Regions from separate parts of the Homo sapiens genome. Here region 1 is linked to region 2. Evidence: fine-mapped expression QTL. A gene starts in region 2. The other region holds a variant in brackets. All regions are shown on one strand. Distances are from middle to middle.

Region 1 (5,000 bases), 79 kb before region 2:
GTCAGTAAATTATTTATCTAAAAATTAATCTTCCTAAACAGATTTCCACCCCCCTTCAATTTGAAAGCTAAACTTCTGAGGAGTCTCCACTTCAGCAACTTCATATCTGAAGAGCCTACATCTGTAAAAACATTTCAAATGAAAACACTAAGACAACCCCCAGAGAAGCAAATAAAATGGGAATTAAGTATATAGCAGCCTTTCTACGGTTACATTCCTAACAACAGCAGATTCTAATTTGATGCCAAACAGAGGTTATGTAACAAAATCAGTGAGCAATCTAGTTCTTTTGGTTTCAGTAGAACATTTAGGTGCTTCAGTAATTCTGTCTCTGTTTCCCCATTTATGCCAATATGGATGGATTGCGTGTCTCCGAGACCTAGAAGCAGAGGGCGCATTAGCTAGGAAGAAGCATGATTGTACACTAGAACAAGTGGCAGAAAAAGTGTACGACGAAACGTCTAGGCTCCAAGGGATATGCTGTTAATACAATTGCCAAAACACAAACGTCAAAGATGGATTTAAATTTTCAAGTCATAATTTAAAATTACTCAGCCAGACTTTAACACTCTTACACAAACCACTTTATTCGTTAATAAGACCATGAACCAACAGTAAGAGAACCTACCTCCAAAAAAAGATACTAAGCCTACTTTAGGGTACTAGTAATATGTGTTGGGTTTTTTTTTTTTTTTTAATTCTCTCTCCAATTTACATCCATGGTCTGGACTATCTGTTAAATTTTAAAAACCATTTTTTTTTCTAAATTGTCATTAAGAATAACAAGACATAATCTTATAAAACATGAAGGCATTACAATTCTAAGTTTCAAGGAGTCTCCAATTTATCTTTAGAACTCAGGATATAAATGTAGCCATTAGTTTTCACTCATTTCAGATTTTGGTAAAGGTGCTATAAGCATTTAATGAAGCATTTTTGATCCATTTCCACAATCAAGAAATGACAAGATGTTATCTTCAGAAATGACTTGACAAGTGACTCTTGTGCAGAAAACTTTCAGCATAAGAACACTGGGTAGGCAGATTTGAGGCACAGTTTGAAGCAAACTTTTAAATTGTGGTAAAATATACAGAACATAAAATGCACCATCTTAATTATTTTTAAGTGTACTATTCAGTGGAATTATTCACAATGCTGTGCAACTATTTCCATTATCCATATCCAGAGCTTTTTCACATCCCAAACAGAAACTCTGGACCTATTGAACAGTAATTCCCCCTTCCTCTTTTCCCCTAGTTCCTTCCAGCCCCTGGAAACCGCTAGTCTACTTTCTGCATCTATGAATTTAAAGCAAACTTTTATTATTATTTTTTTTAAGCAAAAAACAATCCAACAAACAGAACTCCTCCACTTCTATAGGGCATGGGCAGTCAGACAACAAGTTCATAAACCTGTCAGTGAGGCCATGGAGGCCTACTTTCCCCTGCATTTCAGCCGTCAAATTTTTTACATCTATTTTGACAGGTAGACCATACACAATCTTTTCATTTCTTTATGAATTTAGCGAATATTATCTGAGTGCCTACTTATGGCCGGTACTCTTTTAATTCTGGAAGAAACTAAGATAGACCTGGTCGCTGCCCTCGCAGCCCTCACATTCTGGTTAACACTGCTTCACTTTATCTCCAAACTCTGTAAAGCATGGAAGAGTGTGCAATTTTGATGAGATACCAATGATATGACACAAGCCTTGTGTCAATAACCCATTTTCAGCATCAGAATTGCTAGAACATTATCTACTTTTCACTATTATTTTTGGTCAGTGCTTTACAGGTGATAGATACAAGAAGAGTTGAACTCTATTCCCAATGGATGATGAATATTATGATGAATATTATGCCCTTATGTTGGCCTTCTGGATCTCTGTATCATTTAATTCAATATCTGACAAAACATATAGAAACTAGTGATAGAAAAAGATATGCTTTAGGTTTTCTAATATTTTCTATTTTAAATATCCAATTTGGGATTCCATTTATATGAAATGCCCAGAATAGGCAAATCCAAAGGGACCAAAAGATTAGTAGTTAGGGGCTGGGATAGAAGAGAATGAGGAGTGACTGCTAATGGGTACAGGAGTTTCTTTTTGGGGTGATAAAAATGTCTTAAATAGTGGTGGTGGTTGTACAGCCTTGTGACTGTATCAAACACTGAATTTTATACTTTAAAATGGTGATTTTACGTTGTGTGAATTATATCAATTATTTTAATAAAAAATTTAGGTATTCAATAAAGCTAGACACAATGGTATTAGTGAGAACACATCTTTTAAGTCCATATATAGCTACCAGAGGGCCCTTCCTATGGACTGTAAAAAACAGGTCGGTCCATTCTGAAGTGGCTGCAAACAAGCAGTATATACTGGGACAATCTGTGAATTCAGATTCAGGCTGGGCAGCATCTGGACAGGAAGTAGAGGAGAAAATCATCTGGTCAGACAAGACTGTCTCCCCATCAGCAGAGGCCCTAATACGTCCTTAAATCACACTCAAACCCCCACATCTGCTTGAAGCAACAGGAATTCGGGTCCAGATAGAAATTACTAGGATTTATCTGCAAGGGAACTCCTATGTTTATACAGACATGGTATTAGATATACCTGGTAGATTACACACCCCTCCTATGCAGTACATGCCC[G/A]CATTAAACATGGAAACTAGACTTTCTCCATGAAAAACCACAGAAATTTTAAAGGTAAATCTGATTTTACCCTAAAATATTTGATATTTTCCTGTTACTAGGAAACTTATTCACCCACCCATGCCTGCACCCACTCACTGATTTATCTACTGTGGTCATACTCATTAACTCCTAGGCAAAATCAGTGTAAAAACATTCGATGCCACTTACAAATGGAATGGGTATTGCTAAAAGGACTACAAAACAGTGTTAATATTTCAGACTCCCCTAGTTGTAAGACAAAAAATAGTATGTAAACACTTGAGAAAAAAAGACAGTCATTTGAAATAGGAAAACCCGAACACTATGCCCACTCTGTTTAGAAACAGAAGTAACAGGCTGCTCAAGAACTCAGAGATGCACACAATTATGATTTTATTTGTTAAGTTACAATAGCCAAAAGAGCTTTACAAAAGGCAAAATAAACTACACATCCATTTTAGAAAAGTCCTTTTTATTTCTTTAAATCAGAGGCCCCCTCTAGCGTTTGAAAGCAGTCACAGGCAACACACAATGCAATTGAAAGTAAACAGTCACAGCATTTTACCGCAGACCTTCCAAAACATAAGGCTTGCTTCTGTTCCATTCAAGTGGCACAAAAATCAATGAGAGAAAAATAGCTAACCATAATTAATATTGCAAATTCCTGCTATGATTCAGATTCATTATCCTCTCATTCAGTAATTTCTTTATTATTTACTGCTGGGTTATTTTTTACTAGATTAATACTCTGTTAATAAGGAAAAAATATATAATAAATATAGGGACTTTAATTTCCCTAATAAGAAATATACCTCATTTGAAATGACCGAAAATTAATGTTACCATATATCCTACTCTGCTTTGATGGAAGTTATTGGTAACTTCCTAAAGTATATACTTAATTTTAACTTTATTATATTTGGAAATCAGAACTTTTTAAAGTACATATATTTTGAAATTCAACCTAATCTGTGACTTTGCTAAAACTTTTTCAGTACTCAGTAAAAGGAGGTGGGAAACGTTGCTTTGAGGACAAATGTTGGCTCTGAAGAATATGATATAAAGGAACTCTTAAGAGTTTTTATACAGACAGGGCACTGCATAAATCCAATGAGTGAATCTCGTGCGCTTTTGAAAACGATTGATTGAAATTAGCGGGAGTAAAAAATAGTTGATTTTCACTCTATTTTTTCAGCTAATGTCTTTATGTGTCTGTTTCCATGTTCTATTACAGAGGGTTTAAGCTGACAGCTAGTATTACTATAACTGGAAAATAAAAAGAAATCTCTAATTTTAACAAAAGAAAACAATGCAAACTTGAGGAAGAAACCAACAGAGAAAACTATATTAAGCTAATACTTCATGTTCTTAAAAGTTATAAATACACTGAAAATTTGAAAATTCAATAGCTCTTGAAACAAATTTAATCTGTATTAACTTTATTTAAATAAATGACCAATCTGTCACCCAACATGTCATGTGGCTTCTCTGCACTGATCTTGCTTTGTTTTCAAACTTGTCACTTGCAAATATTATAAGAAAAAAAGGTCATCTAAAATGAGTTAAACTGGTTACAATTGGTCTCAACTTTTAAGAATTTACATTCAAATGGAATAGGACGCAGCGTTTTTAAAGTGCAAGATATACTCTTTTGGCTCAACATGAAACATTATAGAACTGGAAATTACCGCAGTCATTTCTCCTACAACAAACTTAGTTAAAAGCTGTTTTGAAAGTTAGTTAGCCATCAGATTATAAACTATGAAAAACACTGAAAAGTCATTTAAAATGAGTATATAAATGCAAATTACAAATAAAACCAGTGTGGGAGAGGTAGCATAAAGTAAATAAGATCAAATAAATACTATACAATAACATACAAAATTTTGCTTATAAAAAATTGAAAATACCATTTTAAAACATCCATTTTCCTCACTTTTGAGGTTTTTACAAAGAAATTAAAATTTAGACTTAGAGTCTCTATAAAGCTTTTCCAAATGTTATTAATTACTGGCATTGCTTTTTGCCAAAATCTCTCTGATCTGTCGGTCGAGTTCACTTATTATTCGATCCTCGTGATTATACACACCCGTTCTCATCAAAGTATCCCTTTCTTCTATCAGGCGAGTCAAATAATCATCCAAACCTTCTTCCAATACACTGCCATGGGGGCCATCCTTTTTTCCACTTGCAATCTCTGTGGAATCCTGGTATTGTTTTTGCTCTTGTTGCCTTAACCTGAGAAGTCAAGAACAAATGCCACTGTAGCAACTGTGTTGGTTTTCTTAATGTCACTATTTAAAAACAAAATGATTCAATGG
Region 2 (5,000 bases):
AAATTGCAAGTTAACTCTTAAGGACTGTAGTCCCCCGAGTCCTCCACCAAGCCAAAGGGATGAGAATACATGAGGGGAAATGAGACTGAAAAGGTAGGCAAGAGGTCTACCACAAAGGGCCATGTATGCCATTCTAAGAAATACAGACATTATCCTTTAGGACACTGAAGGACTTTAAGAAAATCAGATTTGCATTTCAGAAAGATCATCCCCAGGGAGTAAAGGAGGAAGTCTAGATGTTTCTGGAAAGGAAGAAAACATTGAAGAATCAGACTACTGAAAAGATTATTACAGTAAGTTAGGTGGATAATGAGGGCCCCTTACCAAGGCACTCACAATGTAAACTCATTCATTCAAAAACTCGTATGTAGAATCTATTATTATTCAGAAAATAAAATCAATTATACTTGATGACCATTTGGAAGTTAGAAATGGAGAGTGAATCCAGGCTGAGGATGACTCCTTGGTTCTTGGCTTAAGGCAACAGCATGGTTATGATGAATGGAAATACAGTACGAACAAGAGAGAAGAATAGTTTGGAGGGAGGACCACATGCTAGTTTTGGGTATGTTTGTGGAAACAACCTAACAGACATCCTTGACTCCAGGTTCTCTTCCTTGCACACTGCTACTAAACTGAACTCAAGAAAAGCATTCTATTTAGGAATATATGCTGCCAACCTATTTCTTGGAACATTAATTCTAAACTGGCTTTCAAGATCCTCTGAGGCCTATTCGCTCCAGTTGTACAAGCTCATTTCTTACCATGACATTTCTAAATATTCACCTTCCTCTACCCTGGTCATCTTGCTGATCTTTTCAATGTTCCACCCACCATGCTCACCCCGGCACAAGCTACTTGGTTGGGAATCAAGCTGGTCAGAAAGACCTTGACTGCTAACCTTTTGAGTTTAAGCCTGAGGCTCTCACTTGAAACTCTGTATTAGGAATATTAACACACATCGCACAGCTCTCCCAATTAGCACTAACAGGCCTCTCTCAGGACCTCATTTTCTGCTGCTCTAAAACTAGCTTCCCCAAATGAATTGCATTTATGTCCTGGGTTGTCAGACTGGCCTGGGTTGTCCATAGAATTCTATTGTCACATATCTAAAGCTCACTTATTATTTAAAGAACTTCAGCCATCCCACCCACCCTACCCTCAAACCTATATTTACAGTACATATCACATATTTTAAATATTATACCCCAACATATTGTGTCCTGTGATCTCCCCACGTGGACAGACCTCTACATCCTTGGAGGGAATGGAGGTATTTGTTTCCTCATAGCATGGTCAGTTATAAGTCTAAAAACTGTTGTTAACCAAATTTTAAGGTTATTTCAGTCCTATGTTTTTAAACAATAAGTAAACTAACAGTTAATAGTGCTCCAAATCTTTATGGCTTTTCTGGTCAGTCTCTTGTTCCAAAATTCAAAGATTAGGATTACAATGTTTCCTTTGCTCTCATCCCTCACACAGTGCCAGGCCTTTATAAAACACTCTCCCATGGGGGAAAAAATGCAGCCAGGCTTCTGCTCTGGCTCAAGATGACTCCTTCTTAACATACTATTCGTAAAGTGTCCTCAATTCACCTGTTATCTCCTATGCCCTCCACTTTCTTGCAAATCTGTTCTCCAACCACACTGAATTTAACCAATGTTTACTGAGTGAATTTAATTAAGCAAGGCAAAACGTGTCTTGCTTTTCCATACTTTAAGTGCTCCCTGCTCTTCTCTTTGCCTGGAATGCCCTTCCTTTTTTCACCTGACAAATTCCTAATCATCTGTAGGACCCCAAAAAATGCCACCTCCTCTAGTGAAACTTCCGCAGTTTCCTTAGACAGAGGTGGTCATTCATTAGGGTCTTCCACATCCTGATGAATTATTTGCTGACACACTCTCCTTGCTACATCCTTAGCTTTTTAGAATCAGGACTGTTTCATTCTTACATTCCCAGCACAGTGTCTGACACTCAATGAGTCCCAATAAACCAATGTCATTCATCCAAAACACACCTTTTAAGGAATGTATAATACACCCTCTTAAGAACTGTAGTCCCCTGAGTCCTCCAGCAAGACGTGTAAAGGGAATTGCCTCCGGAACACTTCTGGAATCGCAGGAAGCCTGTATTCAAGTCAAAGCTCTTACAAGTGCTATTATTGGGAACCGCTGATCAGAACGCGCTTCTCAGGACCACGTTCAGCTCATATATAAAAGCCATCGACGTGCTGCTTTGGATGAAAATCGTTTTCTCTAGATTCTCTGGGGCTACGGCTAGTCACGCTAAATATCACTTATCCCTAATAGCGCTCATATCCCTGGAGAGATTTTTAAATCAATTGCCTAACAGACCTCACTACGTACAACTTTGAACAAGTCTGTGGGGACCACAAAAGCACAGATGACAGGGTTCTTAAGGTTAACAAGGCCTCGGTCCCACACTAAGCTTTTAAAACTCGGGAGGCAGCAGTTGCAAAAGCAAGCCTCAGGCTGCTCACCTTCTAGGATGGACACGACGATGAGCAATTGGTCGGATTTGGAGACCATGGTTGCGGTGAGCGGTCCGGGGGCGAAGGCGGCTGGGGGGAAGTGAGGTCCAGTTGAGTCGCGGGTAATCCGGGACCCCCGGCGGGACCCCCACTGCCCGCCCCCGGTCCCTGATGCCCGGACCCCGCTCCGCAGCCAGGTCCCACCGCCGTCTGCTGCAGCGCGCCCGGCTCCTCTGCCTCGGGCCGCCAGCCCAGATCCTAACTGTGCCCCGACTCAAGGAAAAAGCCACGCTGCAGCCCTGCCAGTCTGCAAGCAGAGACAAGCCCGCCACCCGAGGACCTTTTGCCGCCTGCGTAGCCGCTTTTCAAACGCCCGGGCGGCCGCAGCGGCCGCCGCCGCGCCCAGCTTCCGCCTAGCAACCAGGCCCGCAGGCCCAGTGCCCAGGGGAGGTTGGAGGACAACGGGTGATAGAGACAGAGCAGTCAAGGCTAGAACGCCCGTCAGCGAGCTTCGCCTCCCGCCCTTTTACGCTCTGTTCCAGAGCCCTAAGGAGGACGCCTTCATTACCTCACAGCGCCCTCTGCTAGCCGGACGAGGAGAGGCGGGCGACTTGGTGTGGGACCAGCTGCGCAAGCGCACTACTGCTGTAAACGCTTCCTGAAGCTGCGTAGCCTTTAAGGAGCGTGAGTGTAGCGTATTACCTGCTTTATGCTTCAGCCACAACCTGAGAGTTATATTAGTGGGGATTAAAAAAACAAAAAAACCTAGCTTAGTTGACGTACCCAGTGTCAACACTGCTTAAAAAATTAAATCACAAAAAAATAATGACTTAAATCTAAACTCTAAAGTCCCTAAATCGTGCTCACGCGGCACCTCAAATTTCCGACCTTTGAAAACAAGTAGCTTCAATACGGTAATTACTGTACTTGTTAAAGCTGACGTAAACTCCCCGAGAATTTCCTGTCCCTTAGAAATTACCCCTAAAACAAAAACACTGTCACGTGGGCAATGAAATATAAAGGTTCTTCCACCCCCGATGACAAAGTTATTAGCAAACTCAAAACCAAAAATAAACAAGGCATTGAGGTGCTGTCTGCCGACCCTTTCCCCTTAACGTCTCCCAAATTCAGATTTAAGAAACGGTTCAAGACTTGTAAAGGGAACGGCCTCCTAAACACTACTCAAATTGCAAGAAGCATGTATTCAAGTCAAAGGCAAAGTTCTTTTGGAGGTTATCTAGCTTGAAACTTAAATAACCGAATTGGTTGGAGCGATCGTGGACACTATTAAGTTTGGGAAAAATTCTGCTTCGGAAAACAAAAGTAAATCATAATAAAATAAAGCTGCAGAGATAGCACTAGGTAGTGGACATAAGTGCGGCTTCTCCTATTACTTTCTGGTTTTGTAAATTGAGAAGTTGTTTTGAGAGCAAATATAATATCTCGCTGTTTTCTTTTTCTTCTATTGCTTCCTTGTTTTGGAAATTTAGAAGTTATTTTGAGAGCAAATAATATAATATCACTATTGTTTTCTTCTTCCTCTTCTTTATTCTTCCTTCTTTGCTTTCTGCCCAAAAGAAAAGGAGGAATATGTAGAGATTGGACTAATTACTTCTAAGGCCCTTTCAGGTCCTATCACAGGCATTCTTAAAATGAAGCACTATTCAATGTAAAATCAAAGTAATGATCTACTTTGGATTCATCATTGAACAATGCATTATTTTTGTGGAAGATGTCAAACATACTTTAAAGAAAGCAGAATGATATAATGAACCCCCAGTTACCCAGACCCCAGCTTCAACGATTATCAACTTAAGACCAATCATCTTCATCTGTTGTGTTATTTTTAAAGAAATCCCCAACATCACATCAATTCATCTTTTTGGATACGTACTTCTAAAAGATGAAGACTTTTTGGCCAGGTGTGGTAGTGGCTCACATCTGTAATCCCAGCACTTTGGGAGGCTGAGGTGGGCGGATCACTTGAGTCAGGAGTTCGAGACCAACCTGGCCAACATAGCAGAACTCCGTCTCTACTAAAAATACAAAAATTAGCCAGACGTGGTAGCGCAAGCCAGAAATCCCAGCTACTTGGGAGGCTGAAGCACGAGAAGGCTGAGGCACGAGAATCGCTTGAAATCATGAGGCAGAGGTTGCAGTGAGCCGGTATCATGCCACAGCGCTCCAGCCTGGGCCACAGAGAAAGACTCAGTCTCAAAAAAAAAAAAAAAAAAAAAGATAACGACTTCTTAAAGAATCTTAAAATATTAAGTATTTAACCACAATCCCATTATTACACTTAATAATTAACAAAAATTTCTTAATCCCATTAAATATATACTGTTCAAATTTCTCTGATTGTCTAATAATTTGTTTGCAGTCGGTTTTTTCAAATCAGGATCCAAACAAGTTCCAAAATACAATGGTTGGTATGTCTCTTGTCTTTTTTAATGTATATGGTTAGGCTTTGTGCCCCCACCAAAATCTCATTTTGAATTGTAATCCCCAC

What was found.
Region 1: its variant is fine-mapped to the expression of CEP120 in whole blood (INTERVAL, PIP 0.99).

The regions. Positions count from the first base shown.
Region 1 is chr5:123,341,837-123,346,836 of GRCh38, forward strand. It overlaps CEP120 (centrosomal protein 120), which reads right to left. Exons shown (of 20, transcript NM_001375405.1): 20 at 3,056-4,917. The coding sequence ends at 4,683. Among named protein-coding and RNA genes, the nearest start is that of CEP120, 79 kb to the right of the region's middle. The variant G/A (reference allele first, on the strand shown) is at 2,659.
Region 2 is chr5:123,420,450-123,425,449 of GRCh38, forward strand. It overlaps CEP120 (centrosomal protein 120), which reads right to left and starts at 2,954. Exons shown (of 20, transcript NM_001375405.1): 1 at 2,501-2,954. The coding sequence starts at 2,549. RefSeq lists an enhancer at 2,220-3,165 and a silencer at 2,495-2,654.